2 separate regions of the Homo sapiens genome follow, and region 2 is linked to region 1. Evidence: fine-mapped expression QTL. A gene starts in region 1. The other region holds a variant in brackets. All regions are shown on one strand. Distances are from middle to middle.

Region 1 (8,329 bases):
TGGTGGAGAGAGGAAAAAACAAGTTCACAGTTCATGTCCAGTTCAAAGATGGGTCTCAGTTCACATCCAGCGTCAGGCTGTCAAAGGGACCAATGCTAGTAGATGGCCAGAGAGACAGCACCCTCCTGGGTCTCTCCTCTCCAGGGTTTAGGGTGGTGTGGTCTTCTCACAGTGGTGAAATGAGAGAGCGAGAATGGAAAAAGAAAAAGCAAAAGGTCTGTGCCCCAACCCTTCCCCACTTTTGCTACCTAACTTCTCAGCTGTGTTAAGGAGGCACTTTCTACAGTTCACTGTGGGTACAGGATAAAGGCACTAAGCAACTATTAAATCAATTGGTTTAGTTTCTTCAGGGAGCCTCAAGGGGAGGGCTGAAGTCTCTACAGACTTCAAAGAATGACTGCAAAGAAAAAAAAATCAGCTCTGCTTCGGATGCATATAATAGAGAAACATTTTCATTTACATCCTAAGAATGCACCAAAAAACATGCAGTATTGCACCTTTTTGTTTGTTTGTTTGTTTGCTTGTTTGTGTTGCTTGTGTTTGTCTTCAGCTAGAAAGAATACTTGTTCTTAGGTGTTGCTATATGTACTTTGATGACTTATTGAGTTTTTCACATGGCTTCCCTTTAAGGGATGGGCATATTGGTCCTCTCTCCGCCTATACCTGCACAAAAACCTGGTATTTCCCTGAGCAAAGGCAGGAAAATTGACTGAGTGCCCCCACCCCCACCCCCCATAATTTCTATTGGGCCTTTCACCCCACAGACTTGTAATTTTTATTACTTTTAAAATTTTTATTACTGAAATCATGCATTAATTAATTCAAGGTACATCTTAGTCAAATAGGCCATAATGCTGAATAAGAGAACATGCTTTGAGCTCCAAAAAGTTATTGTTCCCATCTGACTAACATATGCACTTAAATACAGTACTTTATTTACTAATAAAATAGTTAATAAATGGAGGAGTGCACTTTTGGTGAATGCAAATGAAAAAGGATCTATTTTTAGAAGAATCGATTTCAACTTAAGCTTATCCCCTATTGTCTGGGTTAACTTCTCAGCATGCGATTATAAAATAAATTGTATCAGATTCAAACATGCTTACATTTAACTTCATTTGTGCTCTCTTGCAATAAGGAGGCTAAGGTTTTACATCCAGTTCTGAAAGCCAGGGGTCGGAGTGCAGGCCTGGTGAGAAAAGACCTGTATTTGGCTCATCTGCAGTTGAGACCATTTAGCGGCACTGCAGAAGAATCAATTAATTTAATTCAGTTAACTTTTTCTTAGAGAATAATCTGGATTAGAAAGAGAATGGGCCCAGGGGGAAATCCCTACAGATCAGGACCAGTATCCAATTTATAAGGTGCTTTGTGAACCAGTCTTAAGTAATCGGAGTTTTCTTTTTTCACCTTGTAATATGCAGTTCAGTTGATCGAAATAAAAATATCTATTCATTGTCCATTTTGGCTGGTCTATCATGTTACATATAATACATCTGATGCACTGTCTTCAATGTGCTACGCAGTTTGCAAAGATGTTTTACTGGAGTCCCATGCGAATTTCAATTTCATATTTCTAAGTGATCATCTTGTTCTGAGTTTTTAAAAAAGTTAAAGAAACCAAAGCATTAAAAATGTTTCAGTTTGGGGAAGCATATGATTATTATTTTACCTAGACTAGTTCGTGGACTGAATCTTTTTAAGCCAGTTTTAGAAAATACTCTCTCTTTTCCCATTTTTTAATAAAAGGAAAATAGTTTATTTTGTCATGGATCTTGAAAGCTTCTGGTTCACCACCCCCAAAATCCTCAATGCAACAACGCATTGACAGTTAAATAGAGCATTCCAAGTCTACTTAGTAAAGTATCTACAAAGCGTGACATGAGTCACTAGGTTTTCTGTTTTGTTTTTTAAGTCTTTTGAGCTGCTAAGTGGGGCTTTTTTGTTTGCTTGCCTTTGTTTTTTAAACATCGGTCAGTAGCTTGCTCTTATTAACGCAGTTTTGGTTAGCAGTGGTGCAATTGGCAGTTCTGATATTGACCTGTCTATAATGGGCTATGCTATTATTCATATCCTCTTCGATCTCCATGTACTCAGACTTGCTCATAGTAGAGGAACTGCGGCGACTGAGGTCACTGTCAGAGGCTAAGTTAGGGGAACTGACGTGGAGCAACTGAGCCTGCTCTTCCCCCTCAGTTTCTCGGTGGTAGAAATAGTTGAAATTGGACACAATGACAGGTACGGGCAGGGCAATTGTTAGCACACCAGCGATGGCACACAAGGAGCCCACGATCTTGCCTCCAATTGTCACAGGGTACATGTCACCGTATCCTACAGTGGTCATGGACACCACCGCCCACCAGAAAGCATCGGGGATACTGGAGAAGTGCGACTCAGCTTCTTCCGCCTCGGCAAAGTACACTGCACTAGAAAACAGGATGACCCCGATGAAGAGGAAAAAGATGAGCAGCCCTAGCTCTCTCATACTAGCTTTGAGGGTCTGGCCCAGGATCTGGAGGCCCTTAGAGTGGCGGGAGAGCTTGAAGATTCTAAAAACCCTTACCAAGCGGATGACCCTGAGGATGGCCAGGGAGGTGGCCTGCTCGCCCTTCTGGTTTCCTTCCTGCTCAGCTATCTCGGTGCCCAGCGTGATGAAATAAGGAATGATGGCCACAATGTCTATGAAGTTCATGATGTTTTTGAAGAAGTCCGTCTTGCTGGGGCAGGCGAAGAAGCGCACCACCAGCTCGAAGGAGAACCAGATGATACACAGCGTTTCCACGATGAAGAAGGGGTCTGTGAAGATGTTGGAATTGTAGATGACCGTGGTGTTGTCGATGCGGTGGACGGTGCCCGTGAAGTCCTTGTCATCCTTCAGCTCGGGGAGCGTCTCCAGGCAAAAGATGACGATGGAGATGAGGATGACCATGACGGAGACGATGGCGATGACCCTGGCGGGCCCCGAGCTCTCGGGGTACTCGAAGAGCAGCCACACCTGGCGCTGGTACTCCTTCTCGGGCAGAGGGCGCTCCTCCTCCTTGATGAAGCCCTCGTCCTCCCGGAACTTCTCCATGGCCTCCTCGCCCAACTCGTAAAACTTGATCTCCTCGGAGAACATGTCCAGGGGCACGTTGACCGGCCTCCGCAGGCGGCCGCCGGACTGGTAGTAGTAGAGGATGGCGTCGAAGCTGGGCCGGTTGCGGTCGAAGAAGTACTCGTTCCTCAGGGGGTCGAAGTAGCGCATGCGTTTCTTAGGGTTGCCCAGCAGCGTGTTGGGGAACTGCGCCAGGGTCTTGAGCTGCGTCTCGAAGCGCAGCCCGGAGATGTTGATCACCACGCGCTCGCAGCACTCGTGGTCGTCGTGGTCGGCCTGCCGGGGGTAGCTGCCATCCTGGGGGTGGCCCGGGGCGGCCGAAGCCTCGTCCACGTTCTCCCCAGACATCACCGTCATGGTGGAAGCCGGGCGCGGGGGTGGGAGGCCAGGAGAGAGCCCGGGGTGGGAAGCAGCCAGGGACCAGGGGTGGGGGGGACCCAAGCGGCCCCCCCACCGGAGCGCGCGTCTCCCTCACGCCCAGGGGGAGGTGCTTCAACACGAGCAGGTCGGGAGATCTGCGACTTTGCCTCTCGCTGCCTTCCCCTCCACCCTGCCTTTCACTCAGTTTGGAATCCCCCTCGCCTGCGGGCCGGGTGCAGCTTTTTGCAGAGGGTTGGGTTTGGGTTTGGGGGTTTGTTGGTTTTCTGTTGTTGTTGTTTAGATATTTCTTCCTGATCCCAGGTGCCTTAACGCAGTGCCGTTCTAGCGGACTGGGCCATTGCTTCGGGGGTCGCCCTGGCCTCCCCTCCCCTCCGAGAGCCTTCCTAGGACCCGGTGCAGTGCCGGCTCGGCAGATCCCCACGCCTGCCACCCTCTCTGCTTCTCCTCGGCTCTCCCCCCTCCTACCCCTCTTCGCCTGCCGCCTTCTAAGCTCCCACCAGGGCGATCGATGCACGCTGCAGAGAAATAGAAAGTGATACGGGGGTAGAAAATCAGAAGCATTCAGATGGGACGGACCTACAGACACCGAAGAACACAGACCTCTAGCTTGAGAAAGCACTGGACGTTTGCTAGGGCTATCACACACACACGGACAGACGACACGCAGACACCCGGAAATCCAAGTTTGGGGCTCTTCCATCCCACTTTCCCCAATGCCCAACAGCCGATCTGTTTACAACTTCGTTAAACTAGAGATCGGAAAAGCGCCGAGAGACGCCGGGGGAAGCTCAGGGTCCCGGACAGCATCCCCGCACCCCCGGCCTCCCCCACCCGGTCCCCCCAACCCCCGCTTCTGCATCCCCGAGCTGGGGAACCCCCTACCTGGCCGGCTGGCTTGGCGCAGGGGCGGTGCTGAGTCAGCGGAGAGCCCGAGTGGGAATGCGGCAGGTCGTCTTTGCAGTGCCCTGGCGGGAGCCGCGGCGGCCGCCGCAGCAGCATCCGAGACGCGCCGGGCAAACTCGCCGCCCTGGTCCACTCGTCCGACGCCCCTCTCAGTTGGACAATCGCTTTACGGAGCAGCTACGGCGAAAATGTTCCTTCCCTACCCCCATTCTCACCGGTTGCCAGCAACCTGGAGACGCCGTCCTCTCTCCGGTGCAGGGAGTTCCGGAGGATGCGGGGCGGAAAAGCAAAATACCACCCTCTCTCGAAGCTCCGAGGCAAATGACGATAAACAGCACTCTCGCCCCCTCCTAACACTATGGGAGCCCTTGATTCGATCCCGAAGGAGGCGGGCGGGCGAGAGCCTGGATCTACATGGCTCTCCAGTTCCCTTCGCTCTCCGCACCCCAGCGCGGACCTCGCCAAGGCTACGCGGCGCGCCAGGAGCCCTTAGGAGCTTGGAGTGGAGCAGGGTGCGTGCGGCGGCGGGTCCGCTCGGTCCATTTCTGGGCGCTGCAAGATCAGCAGAAACCTGAGAAAGCGCCTGGAATACCGAGCAGCGATTGGCCCACCCGGGCGTGGGTTGGGGAGGGCGGGGGAGGGCAGGAGCGAGGAGGTGGATGGAAAATATGAGGGGGTGGTTTGGAAGAGAGCGGGGTTGTCATTCAGTTCCCACCCTTGCCAGCACAGCTTTTTCCTCTCCTACCAGAAAAGCCGACCGCTAACTCTACTTCCCCTGTGGCCCGCCGCCCCGCCCACGAACGGCCCCTAGCGGCTCGCGACCTTCCCCGGGAATTTCACATTGGAAATGGTCAGGTCCGACGCAATGCAGGCGGTGGTGTTTCTGGCAAAACTCCTCCGACGGGTTTGCTTTTGTGCAGTCCCACAGTAACCCTCTTCGATCGCACTGCTCTGCGCCCCATCCCGCTCCTCCCCCAAGAAGGCCCTTGCTCTCTGCGGGGCCCACCCAGCTTCCCCCGCCGGCTGGACTCGCAGAGCTGCAGACTTTGGGCAGAGCTGTGCAGATGAGGATCCCTGGGTTTGTTCCATGTAGTTTTACTGGGCGGCGGCGGTACTAAGAGCCTGTCCCTCTTTAACCTACGATGGGACTTGAAGTTTTCTTACGATCCGATTATTCTGAAATACAGGGAATGTGACTTGTGGGGGACCGAAGGCTTCGTGGGTTTGTGGGGTTGTCTGCCAACTTGGTGCTAATTGGGAATAATCTGAGAAGCAAGTCGCCTACTCACCTCCCACCCTATGTCCCTCCTCCCGCAGCCTTTTTCCCCAGCCTAGTGCCTCCACAGGGCCACTTTCAAAGCTTGCAATTTATTTGGAAAGGGTCCCCCGCAGAGGCGCATGGCAGCAGGAGCCGGGGGCGTGTGCCTTGCCCTGCGAGTGCGGCTGGAGCTGCGCCCCCAGAGGCGCTGCATCTCCGCGCCTGCAGCGCGAGAAAAGGCAGCAGGCAGCTTGGTACCTCCAGGGCTGCGGAGTCTCTAAGGAGGCTGCAAGAGCCCAGAGTCGCCGCTGATTGGCTCCTCCCGCGGCCTTGGGACCACCCTTCTCACCACCGTTGCCTCCCGCCTACACCACCCACCTCCTTAATCAAAGCCAATGATTGCATCCTTCCCGCTCTATTGTGGCTAGTGGAAAGCAGGGGCCCCTGCGGGATTGCCCAGGCAGTGCAACAGTCCCTGTCTGGAACTAGTTAAATCCTTCCTCCAGATTCAGACGCCAGCATTCCTTTCAGAAAAACAAAAGTGTATGTTCCCTCCCCTCCTTCAGATCCGTACCCCAGCTTTTCTTTCATGAACAATGAGTTCTCTTATACTCCTCCTTCCCATATTAAACTCTTCCCCTTTCCCACCTTCCACACGCATATCCCTCAATCTCAATAGCTCCAGGGATCCCTACCTTTCTGCACTGCTGTTCTAATGCAAATAAATATATTTTTTAAAAAAATTTAAAAATAAAAACAAAGATATAAATATGAAGCTCCCAGCTGAAGTACTGCCAAGTCTTTTGGTTTTGTTGCTGCTGCCACTGCTAGAACCCTACTGGGGATAACCCTACGAGACAAGGGTTTTCTGACCATATCCTAGCACTACTGAGCTTCCCTATTCTCCACTTTATCTGTCCTTATCTTGTACCTCCCTCTTCCTATAACCCATTGCCTTCCTTTAAATGTCCCTAAGACTGTCATCTTCCTAGCTTCTTGTGAATGCATGTGCCCTGACTCAGCATTAGGAGATTGCCTTACTACAAGGGATTCACAGATTGGATGAGATCCCAGGTTCCTAAATTCCGGGTTTTATTGGGGGGCATATTAGGAAATCTTCCACATCTCTGATAGATGTGTTTACAGCAGGACTGGACCTCCAAGGGACTGGAAGAAAATTGTGAGCTGGGAACTCAGCATTCTCCTCCTCCTCCTCCTTCTTCCTCTTCCTCTTCTTCCTCTTGTTCTTCTTTGAGACAGAGTGTAGTAGTGTAATCATAGCTCACCGCAACCTTGAAGTATTGGGCTCAAACAATCCTCCCACCTTAGCCTCTGGAGTAACTGGGAGGACAACAGGCACAAGCCATCACTCCTGGCTAACTGGAACTCAGCATTCTTGATGGAAGTCCTCCCTTGGTAAGGGTCTGAAGATATTTATTAATTCAACAAATATTTGCCCAGCCCCAGCTATGGGCCAGATGGTGCCCTTGCACTGGAATGGAGACATATAAGGTCCCAGGTCTCATGGAGCTCATATTCTGGTGGGAGATACAGACAATAAACATATACGTCATACATTATAGTGTTAGATAAAGAAAATTAAGAATCAGGCACAGCAAGTGACAAATATAGGTTTGCAGATAAGAAGGGCCTCTCTGCAGAAGTAACATTTGAACAAAAAACATCAAGAAGAGAGAGCAAGGAACAGGAAGATGAAAGGATGGGTGTAAGAGCAAAGGTCCCAAGGCAAGGACAGACTCAGCATATTCAGGAAACAAGAGAGCCAGTATGGCCAGAAAGAAGTCACTGAGAAAGAATGTCATCAAAGGTAGGTCAGAAAGGCAGGCAGAGCCCAGATCATGCAGGGCCTCTAAGGCTATGGTAAGAATAGTTCATTTCATTCTGAGTACAATGGGAACCTACTGGAGGATATGCATCAATATAGCAATATGATTTGCATTTCTTGGAGATTATTCTGGCTACTAGAAACAAGACACAAGGTTGGAGGTTACTAAGTAGCATAAGCAATGTTGGCTTAGATGAGGGAGACTGTGGTGAGCTTGTAAGGAGTTTTTGGAAGAGAATTACATTTTGAAATAGAGATGGCAGAATTTGGGATGTGAGGAAAGAAAAGTTTTAGGACTGTCTCCTAGGCTTGTGGCCTTAATAACCAGATAAATGGTAATATCATTTACTGCAGGAGTGTCCCAAACAGTTTCGCTCCTACCTAGATGTGAGTTCCTTGAAGTCTGAGATCTTCTGTGTCTTCTGAGATCTTCTGTGTTGGGCAGCTTAGGAGCTCCTTGAAGTCTGAGACCTTGTGTGTCTTAGTTGTCACTGTATTGGGCAGCGTAGGCCATCTCCTCAGATTCTCTCCAGCTCACCATTGTCTTGTCCAATGGCCACTTGCCCCACTGCAGGTGCTGCTGGAAAAGTCAACTCGATGGGTGGCAGAGTTCTGCCTCTTGAAGTTGACAGCACTGCAAGGAGTGGAATCTGGATTCCTCAAGACTGCAAAAAGGCCTAGGTGAGTAACACAAACCTAGGGGTGCATTAGCTCAATGGACCAAGAGGAGCTTGCCCAGTGGGAGATGCAAGCTAGGATGGAGCTCGTCGGTAAATCCCCTCTACCTTTATTATTTTCATGGCCAAGCAACCACATGGTCTAATGAAAAGGCTGTGTCTCTTTGTGA
Region 2 (8,329 bases), 87 kb before region 1:
GGTTCCTGCCCTGCAGAGGGGGTGGCCATGACCCCGCTACCCTTCATCCAGCCCTCCAAGATACCCATTAGCCTGCTCCTCTTAGGCCTGATGTGAAAAGTCTGAGATGTAAAAAAAAAACAAGACTGTAACCCTTAAAAAATGTGCACACTCTGCTTCTCTTTTTCAAAGATTTTGGCAAGAATAACATGAGTTTCCATGGGACAAATCACAAGCCTTTTTCTTTTTTTTTTCCCCTCAGCCCCTAACTCATTTCAATTCAATGCAACAGAAATGGACTTGGCTAGGCACCAGCACTGTCCTAGGCCCTAGCAGGGAGCTGCGAGGTGGGTGTCCATGAACCTGAGCAGTTCAGCCCCCGATGATGGGAAGAGCAGCCATGCACAGAATGCAAATGCTGGGTGCTAACGCTGCTTGCATTGGGGTATACTTCTTTCACTCGGTAGCTTGGAGATGACCTCAATGTTAGGATGAGGCTCTACGAGGCAAAGGCTCCCAGGCCAACCATGGGCTCCTCGGAGGGCAGAGTCACAGAGCACCTGCAGCCACAGAGTTCTCCCTTCTCCATTGCTGCTTCTCGTGCTAGGAGCCAGGTTTGTGTTCCCAGGAGACACAGTGGCCGTGGGGCTCCATGTCTCTGAACTGCTCAACCTCCCTAGCAGCCCACACTGGGTAGAACCAACTTGCAGCAAGCCTGTATTCTCCTGACCAGCTGAGGCATAGGCTTCTCTCTCCCTGGGAAGACAGCATCCCATTTCTTTATCTGAGGTGTCTGCTCTTAACTGGGCTCAAGCCATCATAGTTGCCTTTCCTGCTGCAATTGCAGGAAACACTTTGTAGGTGGGTGCTTCTTTCTCTAAGGCACTCGAAGTCCCCCAAACCTTCTCTTGTTCACCACTGTGAGTAGGTCACAGCACTATTCTCCCTAATTAACTGGGGCAGAGGAGGAAGGCCAGGAGATTGCTGCTCTGAGTTTTGCCATGCACTATCAGCCAGATTGACAGGAGCACATGGGTACGCACCTCCCGGGGCTGGGTCTCATTCATGAGTTCACAATACACAGAGGCCTCCTGCTGTGACCAAGTGCATTTTCAGCATGGGGAAAATGGCTGGCACATAGTAGGTGCTCAAAAATGTTGCCGGATGAAGGAACTGGTGGCATGCTTGCTCAGTTTTGACAAAATAGCTCTCCAGAGCCTCCAGATATACAGGTCACTGTTGCTCCAGAGCATGAAAATGCTGTGATCCTCTTTCTCTTGCCTCTGCAAGGGGAGCCAGAGGACTCTCTGACCCTGAAAGAGGCGGCCACAGCCCCTGCTGAGGGGAAGAGGGAAGAGCATGTGAATGCAAAGAGGACTGCAGAGCCTGCTGCAGCTGTAGCCACTCGCTCGGAGTGGGAAGTCCAGGCCACCCGAGGGCAGCAGCTTGTCCTCCTCTGCCCTCAGAGGCTGTGGTCATTGAATGAGTCTGGATCTTCTCCCTGGGTTGGGGGAAGGAATCCAGGTGACCCCTCAAAGTGTCTTTCAATGTGTGAATTGGAGAGCTAAGTTCCAGGTGGCTTCTGCTGGGGCTACCAGTAGGAGGAAAAAGGAGAAATCTAGACACAGATAAAAAGCATTCTGCTTCCTCTGTGCCCTGGACCTCCAGATCACCACCAGGACTCTGTCCCAGGACAGCAAGGTGGACCCTGAAATTCCCTGAGCATCGTTACCAGAGAGGTGAGGGGGGCACAGAGCAGAACCATGGAGCCTCCAGACAGAATGCACGCCAGTGGTGCCCCTTGAGGCAGTGTACACAGCAAGCTGTGTAGATCCCTTCACCAATACTGCCACCTAGGAGCTGTGTTCCAGAGAAGCAGGTTCCAGAGGGAAGCACATTTTGCCTAGCCACAGATCTACCAGGATGCATAAAGGTTGGGAGAAGGTTACTAGCTCTTCACTCTCCCCATCCCCAAGTCAGAGAGGACGAGGGCCTGCTGAGTAAACCTGGTTGATCCACAGGGTAAAGACTGGCCCAGCTTCACGGAGAGCAGGAAGTAATTGTCCTCTGTAGGGCTGGGCCACAAGTTAGCCATGCGACCTGAGCAAACCACTTCTCAGAAACCTCATTGATGGCATCAGGAAATGCTTATGTGCCAGTCTGCTCTGGTAATTCCATAACATTTAGTGCGGCATGCGACCCATCCACAAAGACCCCACCTATGACAGGCAGCCGCTTTGGAGGTTTGAAACTCATTGGCACTAGACAAATACATTTTGAATGAGCCAAAAGAAGAATGACTTATTATTTTAGTTATTAAAAATAAAGTGATGCTCATCCTCAGGGACTTTTTAGATTGTTCATTCATGGTAAGCATCACCCAAGGGCTGGTTCTCTCTCCTCCATGCCTCAATTGTGTAACCTCATAATTTTAGAATGTTTTGGCTAAAGGAAACCTCATTCAAGCCCTCCTGTTCAGTGCATGCCCAGAGAGGGCAGGCGCTGGGTCTAAAGTCACACAGTGGCCCAGCAGAGACCAGAGCTTAGTCCTGTGGAGTCTAGAGGCACAATGCTTATTTGTCACATTTCTTCTTCGTCTTTTTCTATCTCCCTGTATTACTACTCATACCTTCTAACCTCCACTGAAATGGTCTTTCCTCTGCCTTTCAAAAAGCCTGAGAATGGAAAAACATAAAGAGAAAGAAAAATGAAAAGATGGAGAGGGAATCAAGTTCACATTTCACATGAGAAGATGTGCCATCCGATTTCAGATCACAGTCCTCGAAAGGTGAGAACTGCGTTTTCTCTTTGTTCCAGGCTGCAGTGACTGCACCATGGATATGAGAGTGAATGCTTGTCAGGCCATCAGTTGGTGTTTTCCCCACATCGCATGTGTGCACAGGTACATACCTGTGAGGCACATGGCCAGGGAGGCCACCTGTGCTTCTTCCCCAGAGAGAGACCTTCAGACCACCCTCCATGTAAGCAAAGGGTATGTGGTGATTACAGAAAGGGATGGGCTAGGCCTCCAAGAGCATTTAGTAAGACTCCATTACAAACAGATTTTAGGAGGATGAAGCCCAGAGAGGTGAAGACACTTGTCTAAAGTCACAGAGGAAGTTAGTTCCTGTCTGAGGACTAGAACTCAGCTTTTCAGACTTCAAGTCCTGCGGTTGGGTGGCAAGGGGGAAGTGGGGATGGTTAATGGGTACAAAAAATAGTTAGAAAGAATGAGTAAGATCCAGTATTTGATACCACAACAGAGTGACTGTAGTCAATATTAATTCAATTGTACATTTAAAAATAACTAAAATAGTATAATTAGATTGTTTGTAACACAAAGGGTAAATGCCTGAGGTGATGGATGCCCCATTTTACCCTGACCTGTGACCACGACGCATTGTATACCTTCATCAAGTGCACTCCATAAACATATACACCAACTATGTACACACAAAAATAAAAAAATAAAAATAAATCTATACGTGGTATTACACACACACATGCACGCATGCACAGAGGACCCCTATTCCCATGTGAACAAAGACTCACAGCAGTCAAGCCCAGCAAGATGCACTCTCTGTAGCGGGAACTGAATGACCCTAAGGGAGGGCACCTGTCCAAAGGTAGGGCCCATACCTGAAACCCATCAATTCAATCACATACAGTGAGGCACGGCCAAGACCTGCAAGATATCAATGTATTTAAAAGACTCATCTTTACATTTGCAGGAGGCTGGGCAGTCTGAGGTCTCCTAAACAAGAAAGTGGGCAGAAAGAAGAGAGGGAGAGGTCCTGAAGATCAATTTTGCTGCCTTCGTAACTCCACGGAGGGTGGGGATCACGGTCTTCCCAACCCTACTCCTTCCTTCTAGAGCAACTAGAGAGACAGGGAAATTCC[T/C]GCCTTTAGAGATCTGCGGGAGGAGCTGAGGGCAATGAGATGATGCTGCTGTGGCTGCTCCTTGGCATTTGTTTTCTGTTCACGAATCAACTTCTCTCAGTCCCCTGAGGAAGGGTGGATTTAGGGGGAAGGACACGGAGTCTCTCGGAATCTTTTGCATCCAGGGATGTGAGTGGGTTTTTATATTTAGTAGATGACTCACCTCCAAGCACATTAGTCACTGCCTCCCAGCTCCATTCTGGCAGGCTGGGTGCTGGGGATCGCAGTGGGGTGAGATCAGACAGGAGATTGGGAGAAAGAGCAAGAGAGCTCAAGGGAGGCAAGAGACTGGGAGACTAATGCCAGAGGAAGTAAGATTAGCGCCCCGAAGCAGAAGGCTCAGGGAAAGAGGGCGGCCAAGTCATGCTCAGCAGAGAAGTTCCAGGGAAGTTCTGGCTCAGCCTTGCCCCAAGCACCTCACCATGGGGGAAAGAGAGAAGGGCAAGATCCAGAGTCCCTGGCTCAGCCGCCTATAAGCCCTCCAAGGGTCCCCTCTTGGCAATGTAGGCAGCTCACCAGCCTGGACCCCATCCATTGGCCGCCTCTGGCCATGACAGATGGCCAGGGCAGGGGTTTTCAGAGAGTGCCACCAGAACATGCTGGGGCCAGGAGCCTGGGCAGGGCAGAAAAAGAGAGCATCCGTGAAAGATGCTCTGTGTCATGAGAGAGGAAGGACCACAGATGAAGGAAGAACATATGGGGTCTAAAGCAAAGGCTCTCAAGTGTGGTCCCTGGGCCCCCTGGGTCAGAAGACCCCGGAGAGCATATGAGCAATGAAGACTCTAGCCCCATTCCAAGTCTGCACCCTCCTCTGGGTGGGTCCAAAGAACCAGCTCTTCACTGGGCCCCAGGGAATTCTCAGGCACATTCGGATGCAAAGCCCTCAGGTCTGGAGCAGGAAGGCTGCATCCCAGCGCTTCAATTCCTACACAGTGTGGGATAAAGGCCATTGGTACGCTTGACTGCGCCTCAGTTTACCATTCAAAAATGAGATGCCTACTTCAAGAATTGTTCTAATTTAAAAACAAACAAAAAAACAAACAAACAAAAAACAGGAAAGGGATGTAAAGTTGGCTTGTATTTTATACTTCTTAACTGGGTCAGAACTGGGTCAGGTCATAGTAGAGGAACACCACACCTGGCTGGATTCCACAGCTCTGGAAAGGACAAAGGTCACCCTGAAGCAAGCTCCTTTCTTTCTCACTGACCTGCAAGGTGGGTGCCATTACCCAATGGTCAAGGAGAGGAGATAGAGGCCGAGAGGTAAGTGACTTGTCCATGACTGGATGGCCAACACCAACAGCAGGACTTGAAGTCAAGCCCAGAGCCCGTGGTTTTGTTTTGTGTTTTCACTTCTCCAAACTGTCACTTCACTTTGTCACCAGGATCCTCTGGGTCGCTTAATAGACCTACCAGCTTCTTGCCAATACAGTCAGGATATTGATTTCTCCCTCATACCTTTCCCCTCTTCCTCCTCCCTTTTCTCTATTGTGGCCCTAATTTTTAAAAGGCTGCATTTGGCTCTCCGTATGGAATTCTTCTCCCCTTGATTTTTGGCCCATTTCCTTCCATTCTAGTGCCTGTGTCGTCCAAAGCTATATGAAGCTCATCTTGGAGGACCCTGGCTCACCCTTTCTCCACTTCCCTGCCACCCGCTGTACACTGTCATGCCCAGTCGGCCCACAGGTGTTTGAGTCTGTTTTCCCTGAAGGTTGGTTAGGGTTCTTGTTGACATTCTTGGCTTTCCTGGACTCTGGGCTCTCTGAGGACAGGGATTGTGTCTTCTCATTTTTCTGCCTCCCTCATAACTTAGTGTAAAGCTTTATACCTGGAGAAATCATCCTTGTTGGCAGGTAGCTTAGCCACAAAAAGGAGCCTCCCAGAAGTGCCCCAGCAAAGGCCTGCACCTCTCACCTTGAGAAGCAGAAAGCAACTTCTGCCCCTTGACTTGCCTGCAAGTCTGCAAGTCTTTGCTGCCTCCTGCTCTCCATAGAGGTGACTTGGTTGAGGAACTTGCCAGGCCAGAGACCTGGGATGCATTGCATGCTACAGGCAAGACGCTCCAATAGAAATTGAAAAGCACAGTCCCTGCCCTCATGCAAGTGTATGCAATTCTCTCTCCTCTCTCTCTCTCTCTCTCTCAATGCTCAACTTCCCACCAATCAAACTGCAAGCTCCTTGACAACAGAGCTATGGGTTTCCTTTTAATCCATTCCTGAGCCCGGAACCCCCATCCCAGCACACACATTCTGCTGGTGCTGAGTACTCCGCTAGCCCGTTTCCATCCCCTCCCACATCTGCTTCATGCTTATTTGCTTATGTCTCTTGAGGGTGCATTTGGCTCTCCATATGGAATTCTCCTCCCCTTGATTCTTGGTCCATTGACCTTTATTCTGGTGCCCATGTTGTCCAAGGCTACATGAAGCTCATCTTGGAGGACCTGGGCCCATGCCTTCTCTACTGCCTCACCACCTGCTGTACACTGCCATGCCTGATCAGCCCACAGGCACCTGAGTCTGTTTTCCCTGAAGCTTGGTTAGAGTTCTTGCTGACATTCTTGGTTTTCCTGGACTCTGGGCTCTCTGAGGACAGGGATTGTGTCTTCTCATTTGTGTCATCTCCCTTGAGATAAGCAAATAAGCATGAAGCAGATGTGGGAGGGGATGGAAAGGGGCTAGTGGAGTCCTTAGAGAACCCCGTTTCACATGCCTGGTCTCTAGCCTCAGTTATTCTATCTAGAAAATGGAGAAAATAGCATCGACATCACACAAACAGTTGGGAGGGTTAAATGAGATAACCTCTATTGAAAGTGACTAACAAAGTGCTGGCTCATAAAACACATACATAAAATGGCAGCATAAGCTAAATTAACTCTGTGCTAGTGCAAGCTGTGCACATATCAGAAAATGAAGGGGGTGCATTAAAAATAACAACTCCCCACCATGTGCCAGACACCATACTAGATGCTTTGGCCATGTCACCCTGTAACATTCACATCCACCCTGTTTCACAGAAGAAGAAGTTGAAGCTCAGAGAGGTCAAGTTACCCACCAAAAGTCACACAGCTAGCAAGTGGCCAAGCCCTGCTCCAAAAGGATGCTTGTCTTTCCCCAAAGTTGGAGCTCATTCCTTTAAGCAACAGTGCTTCAGACGGTCTGGGAGATGTAGAGGAGATAAGATTATTTTCAAATAGATTTTGAAGAAGGCTGTGGGAGGCTAAAGGAGGGAAGACAGACAGCAGAGCTATAATGCAGCTTTGGGCACTCTTTAAGAATGGGTGGCTTCACTGGAGAGAGGAGGCTGAGCTGTGCACCACTGTCACAAGCAAAGCAGAAACCATGTCAAGGCTGAGTGTATCCCGCAGGTGATCAGGAGAGGACTCTAATAGTAACAAGCACTGATTGTGCCCAGGAAGGCCCGTGGATGTCAGAGATTCCACTGGCTGGGAGCCTAGGCAGGGTGAAGTCCTGGGGGAAGCAAGAGCGATGGCAGTGGTTCAGCCTGTACCATGTGCACATGTGAGTGTGAACTGTGTGCTCCAGTTCAGGTAGCTATTTAATGTCAAGTGAAGTCCTTGGGACAAAAGGCATCACGACTCTTCTTTCTAACAAACACAAGTTCCTTGGATCCAAGATTTAAGAGGGAAAGAATAATCCCTCCTCCCCCCAAATCTCTCTCAACTTCCTTAAAAACTCCTTCCCCAGTCGGGTGTGGTGGCTCACGCCTGTAATCCCAGCACTTTGGGAGGCTGAGGTGGGTGGATTACCTGAGATCAGGAGATCGAGACCATCCTGGCCAACATGTTGAAACCCCGTCTCTACTAAAAAATTCGAAAACTAGCCAGGCGTGGTGGCAGGCTCCTGTAGTCCCAGCTACTCAGGAGGCTGAGGCAGGAGAATAGCTTAAACCCAGGAGGCGGAGGCTGCAGTGAGCCAAGACGGTGCCACTGGACTCCAGCCTGGTGAAAGAGCAAGACTCTGTCTCAAAAATAAAAACAAACAAAACAAACAACAACGAAAAAAACTCCTTCCCCAGGTTTAAAAATTGTTGCTGCTGGAAGACCTAGCACATCCAGTTGGGATTTCTCCTACTGAAATTAATGTCATGAAACACACAAGGAGAAAACAGGTTCCCAGCTAACTCCTGGTCTATAGTCTCCAGGAGCTTGGCCAGCTGATCACCGGGCACTGGCAGTTACTGCCTGATAAGAACAGTGAATTTTTTCACGATGCCTCTTGGCATTCCCCAACAGACTCTGGGGTCCCCTAGAGAAGCTGGGGACACAGTGCTTCTCTGTGATCTCCAATGTGCCCAGCAGAGCACTTGGCATGTAGTAGGCATTTAATTATATTTATTGAGAGTCTATTATGAGGATTGCCATTTAGTGTTTCTAGATGCAGTGGAAGACAGT

What was found.
Region 2: its variant is fine-mapped to the expression of KCNA1 in subcutaneous fat (GTEx, PIP 0.98).

Annotation. Positions count from the first base shown.
Region 1 is chr12:4,906,501-4,914,829 of GRCh38, reverse strand. KCNA1 (potassium voltage-gated channel subfamily A member 1) reads right to left here and starts at 4,925. Exons shown (of 2, transcript NM_000217.3): 1 at 4,358-4,925; 2 at 1-3,990. The coding sequence starts at 3,451. The coding sequence ends at 1,964. RefSeq lists a silencer at 3,404-3,543 and enhancers at 5,544-6,300, 7,095-8,294.
Region 2 is chr12:4,993,860-5,002,188 of GRCh38, reverse strand. No RefSeq gene overlaps it. Among named protein-coding and RNA genes, the nearest start is that of KCNA5, 46 kb to the left of the region's middle. The variant T/C (reference allele first, on the strand shown) is at 3,880.